Linked DNA regions of Homo sapiens: region 2 is linked to region 1. Evidence: fine-mapped expression QTL. A gene starts in region 1. The other region holds a variant in brackets. All regions are shown on one strand. Distances are between the middles of the regions.

The links. PIP is the estimated chance that this variant, and not a neighbour inherited with it, causes the effect.
Region 2: its variant is fine-mapped to the expression of CPT1A in monocytes (CEDAR, PIP 0.95). The same link has a PIP of 0.9 or more in NK cells, monocytes after LPS and monocytes after interferon gamma.

What each region holds. Positions count from the first base shown.
Region 1 is chr11:68,836,836-68,845,157 of GRCh38, reverse strand. CPT1A (carnitine palmitoyltransferase 1A) reads left to right here and starts at 3,242. Exons shown (of 19, transcript NM_001876.4): 1 at 3,242-3,383. RefSeq lists enhancers at 1,211-1,420, 1,461-1,600, 2,323-2,848, 5,057-5,216 and silencers at 2,994-3,353, 3,374-3,423, 3,634-3,713, 3,974-4,073, 4,124-4,403 and 1 more.
Region 2 is chr11:68,750,588-68,758,909 of GRCh38, reverse strand. TESMIN (testis expressed metallothionein like protein) reads left to right here and starts at 7,390. Exons shown (of 10, transcript NM_004923.3): 1 at 7,390-7,490; 2 at 8,211-8,322. The coding sequence starts at 8,250. CPT1A (carnitine palmitoyltransferase 1A) reads left to right here. Exons shown (of 19, transcript NM_001876.4): 19 at 1,180-4,027. The coding sequence ends at 1,266. RefSeq lists silencers at 7,158-7,277, 7,288-7,577 and an enhancer at 7,278-8,263. The variant A/G (reference allele first, on the strand shown) is at 4,162.

The DNA.
Region 1 (8,322 bases):
GCCTGGCCCAACATGGTGAAACCCTGTCTCTACTAAAAATACAAAAATTACCGAGCATGGTGATGCACGTCTGTAATCTCAGCTACTCGGGAGGCTGAGGTATGAGAATCGCTTGAGCCCTGGAGGCAGAGGTTGCAGTGAGGTGAGATTGCGCCACTGCACTCCAACCTGGGGGACAGAGCAAGACTCCATGTCAAAAAAAAAAAAAGGAATTTGTGGACATAACGGTAGGATTTCTGAATTTGCTTTAAAATAAACAGTAGGACTGGGCAGGAGTGGGTAGGAACACAGGCATACACCTTGGCCCTAGCTCCATAATGGTTGATGTTGAGTTTTGGTTGTATAGGCCTTTATTATACTATTCTGGTTAATTTTTTTCAAAGGTTTGGATTTTTCAAAATATTAGCCAGGCATGGCGGGACTTGCCTGTGGTCCCAGCTACTCAGGAAGCTGGGGTAGGAGGATTGCTTGAGCCTAGGATGTCAACACTGCAGTGAGCTGTCATTTTGCTACTGCCCTGCAGCATGGGCAACAGAGAGAGATCCTGTTTCAAAAATGAATGAATGAATGAACGAATGAATAAAAAGGTTTGGATTTTTCCATAAAAAAGTATTTTTTGAGTAAAAAGAGAAATCTTAGCGGTAAATAAAAACATTACCTGCATTAAAAAGAAAATTTTTCTTGTAGCTATGGTAGGCAATTGCTACAGTATTCAAACTGGGGCAGAATCTGTAAAAAACAAGGCTTGAGAAAGATTACTCTAGTTTCAGAGGCAGACATGGAGACGTTTTTGGCCCCAGGGAACTGAGGCTCAGGCCCGGAGCTCCCCGGGAGGCCTCGTTCTCTGCTTCTTTATTAATAGACTCAGCTACGCAGCCGCGGGAGCCGCAGACCCGGGCAGGAGAGCTGCAGCGTGGTCGGCGGGAGGGGAATAAGGCCTCCCCAGTGCGGCTGCAGTTGCAGGCCGGCGCGGGCTCGTTGCAGCTGCCGAGAGCCCGGCCACCATGGCACAGGTGAGCGTGGCGCCTCGGCGTCCCCACAGACTGGGTCCCTGTCCCTGCCCCGCCCGGCCTGCAGGTGGCACCTAGGCGGCGCGCAGGGAAGGGCGCACGGTCAAGGCCGAAGAGCCCTGGGAACAGACAGGGCGCGGGGCCAATCCCAGCTGGGCGCGCACCGGGGCGCTGAGCGAGGGAGGAAATGACCTTGGAGCGGGGACCTGTCGGTGGCTGAGGTTCCAGGGAAAGGAGGGAAGGGCATTTGCGGTGAGAATGACAGTCCAGCTTCCGTAGTGCAAACCGCGAAGGCCCACGTGCAAGGAGAGCCTCACGCGCGAGAGCCGCCCGGGCTCGTGGGGTGCAGCCGCGCGTCAGGAACGTGTGCCCTGGCCCAGCCCACTGGCCTCTTGGGGCGGTGAAATCTGCGGGGGTCGAGTGCCTGGGCTCACTGGTGGTCCAGACAAGCGCAAGCAGGGGGACAAACCCCCAACTTCTAACCTCAAAGAAATGCAAATTAAAAGGAGAGATGAGAGATTCTTCCCTCCCCCACCCCTCCTTTTAGGATTGGCAAAGATTAAAATAATCCATAATCGGAGACAGGGCCCCGCTTGCACGCGCGGGTGGCAGTGGAAGTTGGTAAACTTTTCGGCATGGTAGCTTGGCCTGTGTCACCAAAATGTCGCACGTGCCTGGTTGCTTCCCCTCCAGGGATCTATCCTACAGGATAATCAGGAGCTCCAGGAGGTACATCGACGGCCAACGCAGCTTTTATTTATACCTGCAATGGTGGGGTGGGGGGCGGGGAGGAGGCCCTAATTGTCCAATGGGGGCCGCGTAAATGGATCACAGCATAGTCAAAGGAAATCTTATGCAGCCTTGGGAAGGCCGGTGGTCATCTCCGTCCCCCAGCAGAGACCTGTCTACGACGTAAGCCAAGTGAAAACAAAACAGCCTTACAGACAGCTTGCATCCTAGCCTTCCTTTAAAACAGCGAGCCCGGGAACCGCAGGGAGAGTTAACTGCAGCGGTGGTGGGGGGCGGGATCAAAGGAGAACTTTCATTTTCTCTTCTAAATTCTTCTGCGGTAACAACTAAATGATACAGAAAGAAGGATGGTTGCAAACATGGATTTTTTCATAACTAGAAGAAGTGGTCGAACTTAAAAAGAGCAGGGTTCATAAAAGAGGTTTAAAAGAGTCTTTGTTCATAACATCGGTGCATTTATGGAGCACCTGCTGTATGCAGAGCCGCCAGCTCGCGCCTGGAAGCATTGCGGGCAAAGATAGGGGAGGGGTGGCTCCCGGTCAGGAAGACCCCCTTGGCCCTCCTGTTACGCTTGGGGCCCCTCTCCCTCCCCCTCAACCCCCTGGGTCCCCTGCAGCTGCGCTCGCCCTAGACTCCTGGGACCGGTGGATGTTCAGTTCCCGCTCCCGGCCCCTCTCCCGAGCTCCAGCACAAGGGTCTCTCGGTCGCTCTGCCCTGGCCTCCAGCTACTCCTCTCCCAGCACCTATTATGTTCTTGACGCTGGAAGAATTATTTTAGTAAATCTCACCAAAGCCCCCCAAGTGAGGCATTTTTATCCTAGCTAGATGAGGAGGAGCCACGCTGCCTCTGGATCGCGATGACTGCCACTCGTGGTATAAGGTCTGATTTGGGGCATGGGCTGTGGAATCAGATCTGGACCCAATGTCCGATCTATCACTTCCCCGCGCTTTTTTTTTTAGAGACGGGGTCTCGCTACGTTGCCCAGGCTGGCCTCGAACTCCTGGCTTCAAGCGACTTCCCGCCTCCCGAGTAGCTGGGATTACAGGCGCGCCCCACCACTCCCTGTGGATCGGTTGCTTCTCAGCTCGGTGATGTGGGGTAACTTATTTCCTGGCCCGCGACCCTTGTCTGCATGAAAGAGTCAGGGGTGAATACCATCAGGGGGTGCCTGGAGCATTACACGGGGCAATGCCGATAGATAAGTCGCGAGGATCAGCCAGGCACGGAGCTAAGCGATTTTATGCGCACGGCCTCCACGAGATGGCTCGTTTTACGGATGAGGAAACTGAGGCTCGGAGGGTGAGGAATCTCGTCCTAGACCCCATTCCGGCAGAGGTCGAGGACGCGAGCACCCGCTCGAGCCTCAGTTTCCCTCCCCTCCTAGCCCCGCGGACGCCCCGCCCCGCCGAGGCCCCGGGCCCGCCCTCCGCGCGCCGGGAGTCACCCGCCTGCAGGCGCCGCAGCCGGACCCGCCTCAGCCAATCCGCTGCTGCCGGCGTCGGGTGCGCTCGGCCTCGCCCGCGGCCCTCCTTCCCCGGCTCCCGCTCGCCGCTCGTTCACTCCACCGCCGCCGCCGCCGCCGCCGCTGCCGCTGCCGCTGCCGCACCTCCGTAGCTGACTCGGTGAGGCCCGGTCGCCCGCGGTGGGGAGGGTGGCGGGGCGGCCCTGCGGGCTGCGGGGGCCGGGGACGGGCGGGGCGCGGGGCTGCCGGGAACCGGACCGGGTGGGGGACGCCGCCGGAACCGGGGCGCCGAGAGGAACCCCGGTATTCCCCCCGGACGGCGGGGTTGTGGAGATCCTGAACCCAGAAAGAGGCCGGGGCTCCCCATGTTCCCCAGGGGATTGGGTCTGAGGGTCCACCGGGGGTCGGTCCATCCGCAGGCGGGTCCCGTGCGGCCGCGGGAGGGATGCTCGGCCCTCCGGACTTGGCTGGACGCCTCCGGCCCGGGGCCAGCGGGGCCACCGGCTCCCTTGTCTCCCACTCCTTAATCCGCCCTGGACTGGATTGAGTCTGAGGGTCTGCCCAGGGGTCGGTCAGCCTGCGGGTGGCCGCGGGAGGGATGCTGGACGCTCTGGATGCTTTCCAGGATGCCTTCGCCCGGGGCCAGTAGGGCCTCCGGCTCCTGTCCCTGCCCATCCCACCCTGGCTCTGGAGAGGATTGGGTCTGGGGGTCCGCCCGTGGGTTGGTCACCTACGGGCAGGTGCAGTGCGGCTGAGGGAGGGGTGCTCGGCCCTCGGGATTCGGCAGGGCGCCGCTGACCCCATCCCAGCGTCCGTCTCCCCGGTCCCCCTCCCCATGCCCGCCCTCGCGGTGCAGCCGTCGGGACACGCCCTTGGCGCAGGGACTCCAGGCGCGGTCCGAGCGCTGCCGTGAGCAGGATGAGGGTGCCGGGCCCAGTGCCTGCTTGGGAGCGCCCCGCAGCCTCTCCCGTGCAGCGCTGGGTCAAGGGCGGGTGGGCGCGGAGCATGTGCCCAAGGTCGTGCCGGGCTGGGAGCGGCGGGGCCGCGGGAGGGTGGGGGTGTCACGTGGCCGTGCCCTGGCGAACTTGGCCTGCGAGCCCGACGGTGCGGTCAGGGCCACGCGGGGCAGCCCCTTCTCGGAGCCACCGCCGCGGCCAGCCAACAGCCGGCTTCTTTCGGTTTGTCAGGAGAGGCCATGGGTCAGCGTCTTTATAATGTAAATCCGCCCTTGGCTTTCGTTAAAGCCGCAGAACTCAAAGATGAGGGCCGATCTTACTTTAAAAAAAGAAAACAACTCAGAGAGTTAAAAATCCCAACTACCTACCAGGTTAAATACATAACAAAGTTAATATTCCCAACTCGGCACAGGCTTTCGGTTCCTCTCGGCTCCGTGTGTTATAAAATATTTAAGGGCAGATTTTAGTAGGAAGCTGGTAACTTTGTAAGTTACCGAATAAAATGAAAATCGGTTTTACCTTTTGCAACGTTGTATTTTGTTACACCATTTTCTTCCACAGGTGTCCGGTTTCTGGTCATTCCAGATATGCAAGCATGTTTATTTCATTCTAAGCCACAAACCAAGTGAATAAAAAATGGCTGAGCACTGGTCTTCTATTTATGCCAGGAAGCACCCCCACCCCCGGGCCTTTCCAAATTCTTTAAGGCGACTCTGACCGAGTGAACGTAGCAATAAATTGAGGACATAAGTGTCGCTGAGAATGCACACCGCTGAGGCCAGCGAACATCCAGCTGTCAGTTGGTCTGGGGACTATCAGCATTCGCAGCTGGTTCTTTGGATTGGTTTTGCCTCAATACCAAGAGCCTGTGGACTGCTTTTCGCATGTAAATTACTGGTTTCCTTCCTGTGAAGCATTGCTAGCCTAGACCTTGCACTTGAACCCTATCTTAACAGTTGGAATCAAACAATAAAAAGGGCCAGGTTTGGGAGTGCACACACTTTGTTTCAAAGTGGCAGAAGTTGGCATCATGCACAGGCCAAAATAACGTTTCGAGTTGGTACTAAAAACAAGCCGCCTACCCTGGAGGGGAAGAGAATTAAACTGGGTCCCTTCCGATACTGCTGCGGCTGCTGCGTTTGGCCCCGGCCCCGGACCAGTGGTCACCGAGCGGTCAAGTTGGGCCTCCGGGGAGCCCTGGAACGAGGGCCTGCCCTTACCCAACCCTGGCCCCGAGTGCTCATTCATAAAAACACCGTCAGTTTTCACTGAGGCTTCACAGTGAGCCCCTTTTAGACGCGCCCTGGGCTCTTGAGCGCGGTGCCTGCGTTTCTGGCTCGTTGGATGCAGCATCTGTCATCAGAAGCACTGAGCACCGAGCTGTCCCCACAGCTGGGCACCGCAGGGCTCGACCTTCCCACGGAGAGGTGCGTTGCATTTCTCCCGCTGTCGCTGGGGTGGCCACAGGGACGCGCGCCAACTCGCTCCGGAAGGTCTCTGTGGGCACGGCGGGTGGAACAGGATCCGAGCGCCTGGGACGCGCCAGCCTGGGGGCGGGGCTGCTGCTGACCTTTCCCCTACTTTTCTCAGCCGTCACGTGACGCCGCCCGGGGCTTGGGGGAAGGGGCGGGGCGCGAAGCCGCAGTTGCTGGCGGTGCCCTTCCGAGGACGCTTTCCAAGCGAGCAATTAAACTTGCTGCCCGAAATCTAAAGGCGCAGGGGCGGTGGCAGCGGCGGCGGGAGGCGGAAACCGGAGCCTGCGCGGGCCAAGGGCTGCTTCTGCACTTTGATCGTTTGCATTTTTTCCTTTGTTGGAAAAAATGTTTAGTCACTCTGCATGGTTATTATTGGCAGGCCAGAATTCTGTTGCTGGTGGAAGCCTGAACTTGAATTCCGGAAGAATTGGTGCTTTAAGAATTAAAATGGCTGTTCGAGATTGTTTGTTTAAAGTGTGTTGGAGAGAATCTCTCGAGAATCTCTCCAACACACTTTAAAGAGGCCTCACTTGTCTTCTGCCAGTCTTGAGCTTTTCTTGTGAAGACTTTTGTTTTGTTTTGTTTTTACAAATAAGCGATATAAGCATACGATGCAAAGTTAAAGAGGCACAGATGGGCCCGGCCCCGTGGCTCACGCCTGTAATCTCAATGCTTTGGGAGGCCAAGGTGGGAGGATTGCTTTGAGGCCAGGAATTCGAGACCAACCTGGGCAACAGAGCCAGACCCCTGTCTCTACAAACAATTAGTAGGGCCTGGTGGAGTGCATCTGTGGTCCCAGCTACTCAGGAGGCTGAGGTGGGAGGATGGCTTCAGCCCAGGAGGTGGAGACTGCAGTGAGCTATGATTGCACCACTGCGCTCCAGCCTCGGTGACAGCCAGACCCTGTCTCTGTTTTTTTTTTTTTTTTTTTAAAAAGGTGCAGATACAGAGTAGAGTCCTTCTCACTTGGTTCCCCTCTCCAGATGCCACCACTATTACCAGTTTCTTTGACGACATGTACAGGATATGTTTTTTAAACAAATTGATTGCTTAACACAAGTAAGGACTTTTTTCTGCTTGCTAGCTTCAAATATTTGTTACCTTGTGTAAATTTCAACTTTTACCCCATCCAAATGTCAGGTGAAGGTTGGATCTCCAGCAGGCCCTGGGCTGAGGCCAGCTACCCTATTTGGGTATCTTGACGGCCTCAGAAGTGTCTGCCTTTGCCTTTTTTTTGGTGAGGATTGTTCTTCGGTCCAGGAACGTCTTTGGAAGTTAACAGTGAAAGAAATCATGCTGCTGAGTGAGGCGTGCCCTCTCCAGGGTGTGCAGGAGGGTCACCGTCACCTTGGAGGGTTGGGCAGTAGGGTGGGTACCGCTCTGCTTCCTGAGGGATATAGGTTAGGCATTGGACACCAAGTCCTTTATGTTAAGAAAGGAAGGCTTCATACTCCTGATGCGGGTGGTTTGTGGTACCCAGCCCAGGAGCCGGAGAGCCAGCCTGCATTCTTCCTGTTCCCTAAGCCCCCACATGCAGCCGGGGCTAAGTGCTGCTACTTCTTCCTAACTCACCCTTACATTCACCTTCCTCATTATTTCAGTGGCCCAGAGCAGACATTCAGATATGTGTTGAAGGAATGACAGAACATTTGAGACATCCTTTCTTTTTTTTTCTTTAGTGACAAGGTCTTGCTCTGTTGTCCAGGCTGGAGTGCCGTGGCGCAATCATAGTGCACTCTTGGCCTCAAGCGATCCTCCCACCTCAGCCTCCCAAAGCACTGGGATTACAGGCATAAGCCCCCTCGCCCTGCCCGAAGCACCCTTTTTCCACTCTGGATTGCCATAACCGCCTGACGAGGGGCACTGTTATTCCTGTTTGTGTTATGGGAAGTTCCTGTGAGGGAGGCAGGGAGCAGAGGAGCATTTGGGTCCCCCCTCAATGCACCTTCCTTCATGCTGCTACTGTGGCTGAGGACATCTGGACCCGAGACCACGTCCCTATTCTCTCCCCACAGCAAGCTGCTAGCTCTCTGCAGTGATGTCTGCTTCGCCCACCAGCCCTGGCTCACTCAGGGGGTCCTGTGGTCATCAGGTCACATTGAGTCACCACAGACAGCTTTCCTAACGCTGTGTTCTGATGCCCTGGAGAAACTGTCAGCTAAGCGCAGTGGCTCACGCCTGTAATCCCAGCACTTCTGGAGGCCACGATGGGCGGAACATGAGGTCAGGAGATCGAGACCAGCCTGGCCAACACAGTGAAACCTCGTCTTTACTAAAATACAAAAAGGTAGCTGGGCATGGTGATGCACGCCTGTAATCCCAGCTACTCGGGAGGCTGAGGCAGGGGAATCGCTTGAACCCAGGAGTTGGAGGTTGCAGTGAGCTGAGATCACACCACTGCACTCCAGCCTGGTTGACAGAGCAAGACTCCGTCTCAAAAAAGAAAAGAAAAGAGAAGAGAAGAGACAAAACTGTCATATGCTATCACTGAAATTTGACTTTTTATAAAATGATTCTTCATTTATAAAAGCATTTATCCCTGATTTGCCAACTGTCATCTCCTCTGGTGCCCTGAAAAAGATTTAATACATGGAGGTTTGCTTTCCTTTTTCTTTATTTCCTTCATTCCTTCCTTCCTTCCTTCCTTCCTTCCCTTTCTTTTCTTGGA
Region 2 (8,322 bases), 86 kb after region 1:
ACGGTGGCTCACACCTATAATCTCAGCACTTTGGGAGGCTGAGGCTGGCCAATCACTTGAGGTGAGGAGTTTGAAACCATCCTGGCCAACATGGTGAAACCCCGCCTCTACTAAAAATACAAAACTTAGCTGGTGTGGTGGCACACGCCTGTAATCCCAGCTACTCAGGAGGCTGAGGTAGGAGAATCGCTTGAACCCGGGAGGTGGAGGTTGTAGTGAGCCAGGATCATGCCACTGCACTCCAGCCTGGGTGATGGAGTGAGACTCCGTCTCAGAAAAAAAAAAAAAAAAAAGGAAATGTATCTAATTTGGTTTAACATGTTTACCTCTGTTGGCAGCAATGGTTTTGAAGCTTAACGTTGGAGTGCTGCTGTAACTTTCAGACTCTTTAGCACTTGGAAGATGAACTAAAAATAATGGGTACACACTAAGAAATCTGCATACAGAGCAGGGGACCCCCGGCTTCCTCTGTGGATGGAACAAGGGACCTCCTCCCTAGCATGGCACATTGCCCTTATTTATATTCTGCTTTCCTTGTCGTACATAGCCTGGCAACCCATGCCACTGTCGCTGTTAACAGAGGAAGTTGGGGTTTATTTGTTCACTGCGGTTTTCTTTTGTTGTTTGTTTGTTTGTTTGTTTTAGACAGGGTCTCACTCTGCCACCCAGGCTAGAGTGCAGTGGTGTGATCTCGGCTCACTGCAGCTTCAGCCTCCTGGGCTCAGGGGATCCTCCTACTTCAGCCTCCTGAGTAGCTGGGACTATAGGGGAGTGCCACCACACCTGGCTGATTTTTGTATTTTTTGTAGAAATGTGGTTTCACCATGTTTCCCAGGCTGGTCTTGAACTCCTGGGCTCAAGCGATTCCAAAGTGCTGGGATTACAGGCATGAGCCACCATGCTCAGGATGGTCATTGTGTTTTCCGTGGGATAAACGCATTGGCATTAGGGGAAGGCTTAGATCGACAACACACCCGCACAAACACATCAGCTGTCATCTCTTTACCCTCAGCATTTCTCTGGAATGTCTAAGTTAAGCTTTAAGACGTTGGTCAGATCTTAGAGAACTGGCAGAAAGGAATTTCAATGAAACATTGGGTCAGATTGCAAATGAAAAAGCTTGAAATGTGGGGATGGCCACGTTTTAATAGGTTTTTGGTTTTTGTTTTTACATGAAAGGATTCTCATCGCTTTGGAAGGCACCTGAAAGAAGCAATGACTGACATCATCACTTTGTTTGGTCTCAGTTCTAATTCCAAAAAGTAATTCCACTGGAGCTGCTGGGAAGGAAAACGAGCTCTTCTGATGCAAACCAAATGAAAAATAGGCATTAATCCTGACCTTAGCTCGGGATGAAACACTGCTCTTAAAAAAACTCAGTTTTCCTTCCAGAAAATGTGGGTGTTTTTTTTTCCTAGAACAGTATCTCTCCCCTGTGAAGCATAACCCCACTACTTCCAGACTTGCCCTCCCTTGGGGGACATCTGATAAAGTCTCCCCTGATGTCTCCGCATCGGCTTGGATTTATTAAGGGATGCAAATCTTGTTGAGTTAATGAAGGAATTAGTAGGGTTGTGGCTTCACACACAGTGGAATGGAAATGGTGTGCTTTCTCAGTGGCAACCGAAGGCCTAGTGCTTAAGGGCATTTAGCATCATCCAAGCAGGGTAAACTTTTGTTTTGTTAAAAGAAAAATGTGTTATTCAAGTTGGTGTCCCCAGTTGTAGCTAACACATCTGGAATGCACTAACCAAAATGCTGTGCTTTGGAGACCTGCTTTTGTCACCGTGGGTAACCGTTCCCGTCTGGTCCAGTAGCCTGTGTTTGCCTCTCCACATTTGAAGCAAGCAGGATGCAAGGTCTTCAGTTTTACTGACCTTGTATGTCTTCAAGTCTTCACAACCCAGTGCCTTAAAAATGAAAGGCCCTAAATGTAAGGGAGATGGAGAGAAAGATTTATTTTGTAGAGTCTTTGGGTGGAATTGTGGGTATACTGTTCCCTTCACAATTGACTGAGTATGGATAACCGTACATAAGCATTTGCTACACCCCACCAGCCCCCTCCCCCTCAGAAACACCAGTTCCTTCCCAAGGGCAGCTGTGCCAGACTCCCCTCCCGGGACTGCCTTCTTGTCATCATAAGCAACAAAAGAAATAACAGGCACATGTCATAAAAGGGGAGCAAGGGCCGTGATGGTCAGATAATTCACTCAAGAATAAAACATGACACGTGCCTCAGGAGGATCTCTTTCCCAAAGTGACAGCAAGGAGGGCAGGGCATCGGCCACCAAGCGGGGACTAGCAAGTGAGGAAGGGGAGGGCAGCCCACCGTGGTGAGGAGAGAGTGGCTCCACGACCCCAAGGGATGGCCTTCTCCTCCCACCCGGTGAGGGGAAAGACTCACCAGAGGGTGATGGAGACAGTATGCCGGCTCACCTTGGTGACCAGCCAAGATGTCTCAAGTGACAGTGCTAGGTGTTCACCCAGCCTGTCCTTCAGATAGGAGTGCCTTCACGAAAGCGTCTCATGGACCACAAAGCAATTATGCACTGAGTCATCTTCAGTATTTAATGCAAAAATGAAGCATCATGGAATGAAATTCCCACTGTCTGTCATGACAAGCTTAGCTGTCCATTGTTTTAAATTGTGTATTTATTTTTTTGACCACTTGGTTCTAGTTGGGCCTGACTCCTTCAGAGTGCTGCACCCCGATAGTACAACAGCGATGGCTGAACTGTTGGAGTCGATGGAAGGTGCTTGCCGGAGAACACGTGCCTTTTTTTTTTTTTTTTTTTTTGAGATGGAGTTTCACTCTTGTTGCCCAGGCTGGAGTGCAGTGGTGCAATCTCGGCTCACTGCAGCATCTGCCTTGCAGGTTCAAGCGATTCTCCTGTCTCAGCCTCCCAAGTAGCTGGGATTACACGCCCAACACCATGCCCTGCTAATTTTTGTATTTTTAGTAGAGACGGGGTTTCATCATATTGGTCAGGCTGGTCTCGAACTCCTGACCTCAGGTGATCCACCTGCCTCAGCCTCCCAAAGTGCTGGGATTACAGGCATGAGCCACCATGCGCGGCCCACATGCATGTTTTATGTATGTATACTTCATGATGTAAAAATCCCACCTTTATGGGCCAAAGATTTTTTTTCTCCTGAAAGCAAGAAAAAATGAAAACAAAAGACAAAAAAAAAAAAAAAAGCGTCCAGGCGCGGTGGCTCATGCGTGTAATCCCAGCACTTTGGGAGGCCAAGGCGGGCGGATCACGAGGTCAGGAGATGGAGACCATCCTGGCTAACACGGTGAAACCCCGTCTCTACTAAAAATTCAAAAAATGAGCCGGGCGTGGTGGCGGGCGCCTGTAGTCCCAGCTACTCAGGAGGCTGAGGCAGGAGAATGGCGTGAACCCGGGAGGCGGAGCTTGCAGTGAGCCGAGATCGCTCCACTGCACTCCAGCCTGGGCGACAGAGCGAGACTCCGTCTAAAAAAAAAAGCAAAAACAAACCAACAACAAAAGCCCCTGACTGTCCGTCAAGCAGGCAGCGGGGATGTAGCTCTCTCTGCCCTGGGCAAGAATAGCACTTCCCGTTAAAAGCCAGCAGCCGGCGTCAGTCCCTATCAGAGCCAGCTAGATCATGCACTGTTGACCACTGAGCAATCTGTGTTACACTAGAGTTCACAGGGCATTTTGAGTGTAGACGTGAGTGCTTAAACATATTTGGGTTTCTCTCTCAGGTTTTAAATGTTTCAAATGTAATTGTTGCTCATCAGTGCAGTTATCAATGCAATTTTATATTCCTTGAGGGGAGAAAGAGGGGTCTTATTGTACATGTCCAAGGGGGGTGATAAGAGTATTATCTGTTTAATTTAATTGGAACAAACCATTGTCTTAACGCAGCCATGGTTTGAATTTGTTATCTTGGGCTGACCGGTGCATGTAAATACAGTATGCTCTTTGGATGTAAATCTTAGAAATGCAGTGTGAATGTAGGTTATCATTAATAAAACATTAACCCCAGTCTACTACAAGATTTGTTTCTGTCTCTTTTGTTATATTAAGGGGATTATAAGTCAAGGACCAAGTTCAGATACTTGAGACAAAGTGGAAAGTCTCAGCATATGGAAACAAGGCCTTGGAGGAGACCATGGACATCACCAAGTTC[A/G]TGTGCTGGGCTGGAAAGAAAAGCCTGTTGATTTTCACTTGCTGTGCATTTATTCATCCATTCCATTGCCTCAATGCTGAGAACAGTGCCTGACACATAAAAGATGCTCAATAAATATGTTAAAAGTAATGCATGAATTCCATTTTTCTGTTTTTCTTGAGCACCTGTATTAGGCCATTCTCACATTGCTGTAAAGAAATAGCTGAGACTGGGTAATTTATAAGAGGTTTAATTGGCTCTCAGTTCTGCAGGCTATACAGGAAGCATGGAGGCATCTGCTTCTGGGGAGGCCTCAAACAGCTTTTTACTCATGGTGGAAGGCAAAGGGGGAGCAGGCATTCTACATGGTGAAAGGAGACAGAGAGAGAAAGAGAGGAGGTGCTCTCTTACACATTTGCAAACAACCAGATCTGAGAGAGAGAGAGGAGGTGCTCTCTTACACACTTGCGAACAACCAGATCTCACAGGAACTCACGCACTCTATGGTGAGGACAGTAGCAAGAGGGATGGTGCTGTTCATGAGAAATGCACGCCCATGATCCAGTCACTTCCCATCAGGCCCCACCTCCAACATTAGGGATTACCACTGAACCTGAGATTTGGGTGGGGACACACATCCAAACCATATCAGCGCCTGTTCTAGGCACTGGGGAGACAGCAGTGACCCCACCAGGTTCTGGCTGTCTCATTAGTCCATTTTTACATTGCTGTAAAGAACTTCTTGAGACTGGGTAAGTATAAAGGAAAGACAGTCAATTGACTCACAGTTCAGCATGGCTGGGGAGGCCTCAGGAAACTTATAATCATGGCAGAAGGTGAAGGGGAAGCAAGAAACCTGTTACATGGCAGCAGAGGAGAGAGAGTGAGGGGGAATTGCCGAACACTTTTAAGCCATCAGATCTTGTGAGAACTCACTTCTTATTGCAAGAACAGCGTAGGGGAACCGCCTCCTTGATCCAATCACCTCCCACCAGGCCCCTCCCTTGACACAGAGGGATTACAATTCAAGATGAGATTTGGGTGGGGACACAGAGCCAAACCATATCACAGAGGAAAAAGAGAACAAGCCAACCAGTTGAAGGATTTTAAGTGTTCTGAGGCAACTAAGAGGATCATTGGGAGGGGGTGGTAGCTGGCAGGGAGGTTGACCCACTTAGAGTGGGTTGAGCTGAGACCTGAGAGACTCGACGGAGCCAGCCCGGCCAGTGCAGCAGGGCAGCAAGCATCTAGGAGCAGCAGGTGCAGAGCCTCCAGGCTTGATTGCAACCCGTGGGTGACCCCCACAGGTGGCTGTGTATGCCTGGCATGATGCTACTCAGTAGACGTCTGATTCTGATTAGTAAACGAATGAACGGTGCAACCTTGTGGGTTACTCTCTCGCTTGGGCCACTCAAGCTATGCATAATTCTTGGGCTCTTCGATTTATTATTTTTATTATTTTTTCTGCTTCTGTGAGTGTTTTTTGTTGTTGTTGTTTTTGTTTGTTTGATTTTTGAGATGGAGTTTCAATCTTTTTGCCCAGGCTAAAGTACAATGGTGCAATCTCAGCTCACTGCAACCTCCGCCTCCCAGGTTCAAGCAATTCTCCTGCCTCAGCCTCACAAATAGCTGGGATTGCAGGTGTGCACCACCATGCCTAGCTAATTTTGTATTTTTAGTAGAGACAGGGTTTCACCATGTTAGTCAGGCTGGTCTTGAACTCCTGACTTTAAGTGATCTGACCACCTTGGCCTCCCAGAGTGCTGGGATTACAGGCATGAGCCACCACGCCCAGCCCCAGGCAAAATTTTCTTGATTTTTGAATGTTAAATGTACAACTAAATAGTACACGGTGTTGCTGTGCCTTGGGTACTACCCTTTAAAAATTTAGAAAAGTATTTAATTTTTAAAAGTGAGATTAGAAAGCTGATGTTTTACATTCTTTATTTTTACCAAAACAGTACCTGAGTAGACAGTACCTGAGGCTGTCTCCCCAGCACCCACTCCCACCAGTCCCTCTACACCCTTTGCAGTTTTCGCCATCACTTGAATTAAACTTTCACCTCCTCTTGATTAAACAGTGATATCTATTGACTCCTTAAAGATGAAATAGCTCATTCCCCACCCAAAATTTGAGACTTTCATTGTATTTGTGAGTTTTTTTTTTTTTTTCTGAGAGGGAGCCTTTCTCTGTTGGTCAGGCTGGAGTACAGTGACACAATCTCAGCTCACTGCAACCCCCATCTCCCAGGTTCAAGCCTCAGCCTTCTATGTAGCTGGGACTACAGGCGTGCGCCACTACGCCCAGCTAGTTTTTGTATTTTTTAGTAGAGACGGAGTTTCACTATATGTTGGCCAGGCTGGTCTCGAACTCCTGACCTCAGGTGATCCACCCGCCTCGGCCTCCCAAAGTGCTGGGATTACAGACGTGAGCCACCACGCCCAGCCGTATTTGTTACTTCTATTTCGGGACCAACTCCATCAGTTGCACCTGTAAGCTGCGTCACCAAGGACCGGGAGTGGGTGCAAGGCTGGGAACGTGCGGTGCAAGCCCCTGCCCTCTGTCCACCCGCAGCGTCCCAGGCCGGGATCTGTCTTGAGAGCTCGAGTGTAGAAAAATGTTTTATTTTATTTTATTTATTTTTTTGAGACGGAGTCTAGCTCTGTGGCACAGGCTGGAGTGCAGTGGCGGGATCTCGGCTCACTGCAACCTCCACCTCCCGGGCTCAAGCGATTCTCCTGCCTCAGCCTTCCAAGTAGCTGGGATTACAGGCGCGTGCCACCACGGCCAGCTAATTTTTGTATTTTTAGTAGAGACGGGGTTTCACCATGTTGCCCAGGCTGGTTTTGAACTCCTGACCTCAAGTAATCCGCCTGCCTCGGCCTCCCAAAGTGCTGGGACTACAGGCGTGAGCAACCACGCCTGGCCAGAAAAATATAACTGAAGCCCAAGGTCAGAAGCCAAGCTAGGCAGTCCCACTTAGCGCTGCCCGAGTTGATGGGGACCTCAGTTTCCCCACCTGAGCCTGGATCGGCTGAACCTGGGAGTGCCTCCCCTGACCCGCTCTGGCAACAGCGGCAGTCCAGGCCCCGCCCCTCGCGACTCTGTCTCCTCCCGCCCCAGACCACGCCCACCACACCTCCCTGGCCCCGCCTTTACCTCCCCGCCCCGACCTCGACTCCGCCCCACGCCCAGGCCCCGCCCACTGCCCGGGCGCCTCTTCCCCTCCCCCCAGGTTCCTGTCCCTCACCCTTCCCCCTTCTCCAACCGCCAACGGCCGCCTGCGCCTGAGGCCCGGCCCACGCCCCATCCCGCTCGCTCCACGCTGCGGCAGCCCCGGCGGCCCCAGGTGCGTCCCTCCGAGGAGGAATGACGGGGCGGTCCCCGGGCTGGGCCTCGGCTCTGCAGGCGGGGATGGGGGCTGCCGGGCCGGGTCGGGCCCCTGCGGGTGGGCGGAGGGCGGCGGGCCGTGGGCGAGGCCGCCCCTCACCTGGTCGCACCTCACCTGGCCCCCCCTCCCCTGGCTGCTCCTCACCTGACCCCCTCCTCGGCCGCCCCTCACCTGGCCCCCTCCCCTGGGCGCCCCTCACCTGACCCCCACCCCGGCCGGCCCCTCTCCTGGCCGCCCCTTACCTGGTCGCCCCTCCCCTGACTCCCTCCCCTGGTCGCTCCTCACCTGGCCGCCCCTCACCTGGCCCCCTCCCCTGGCCGCCCCTCCCCTGGTCGCCCCTCCCGTGACCCCCTCCCCGGCCGCCCCTCCCCTGGTCGCCGCTCACCTGACCGCCTCCCCTGGTCGCTCCTCACCTGGCCGCCCCTCACCTGGCCGCCCCTCACCTAATCGCCCCTCATCTGGTCGCCCCTCCCCTGACCCCCTCACCTGGTCGCCCTTCCCCGGGCCCCTCACCTGGCCCTCCCTCACCAGGCCGCCCCCTCCCCTAGCCGCCCCTCACCTGGTCCCCTCCCCTGGCCGCCCCTCCCTTGGCTGCCCCTCCCTTGGCTGTCCCCTTTCCTGGCCGCCCCTCCCCTCGTCCTCTCCTCTGGCTGCCTCTCACCTGGCCGCGTGTTGCAGGTGCGCGGCCCCCGCCATCCCGCCCCGCCGCCCTGCGCCATGGAGGAGGGCCCTCTGCCGGGCGGGCTGCCCAGCCCCGAGGATGCGATGGTGACGGAGCTCTTAAGCCCCG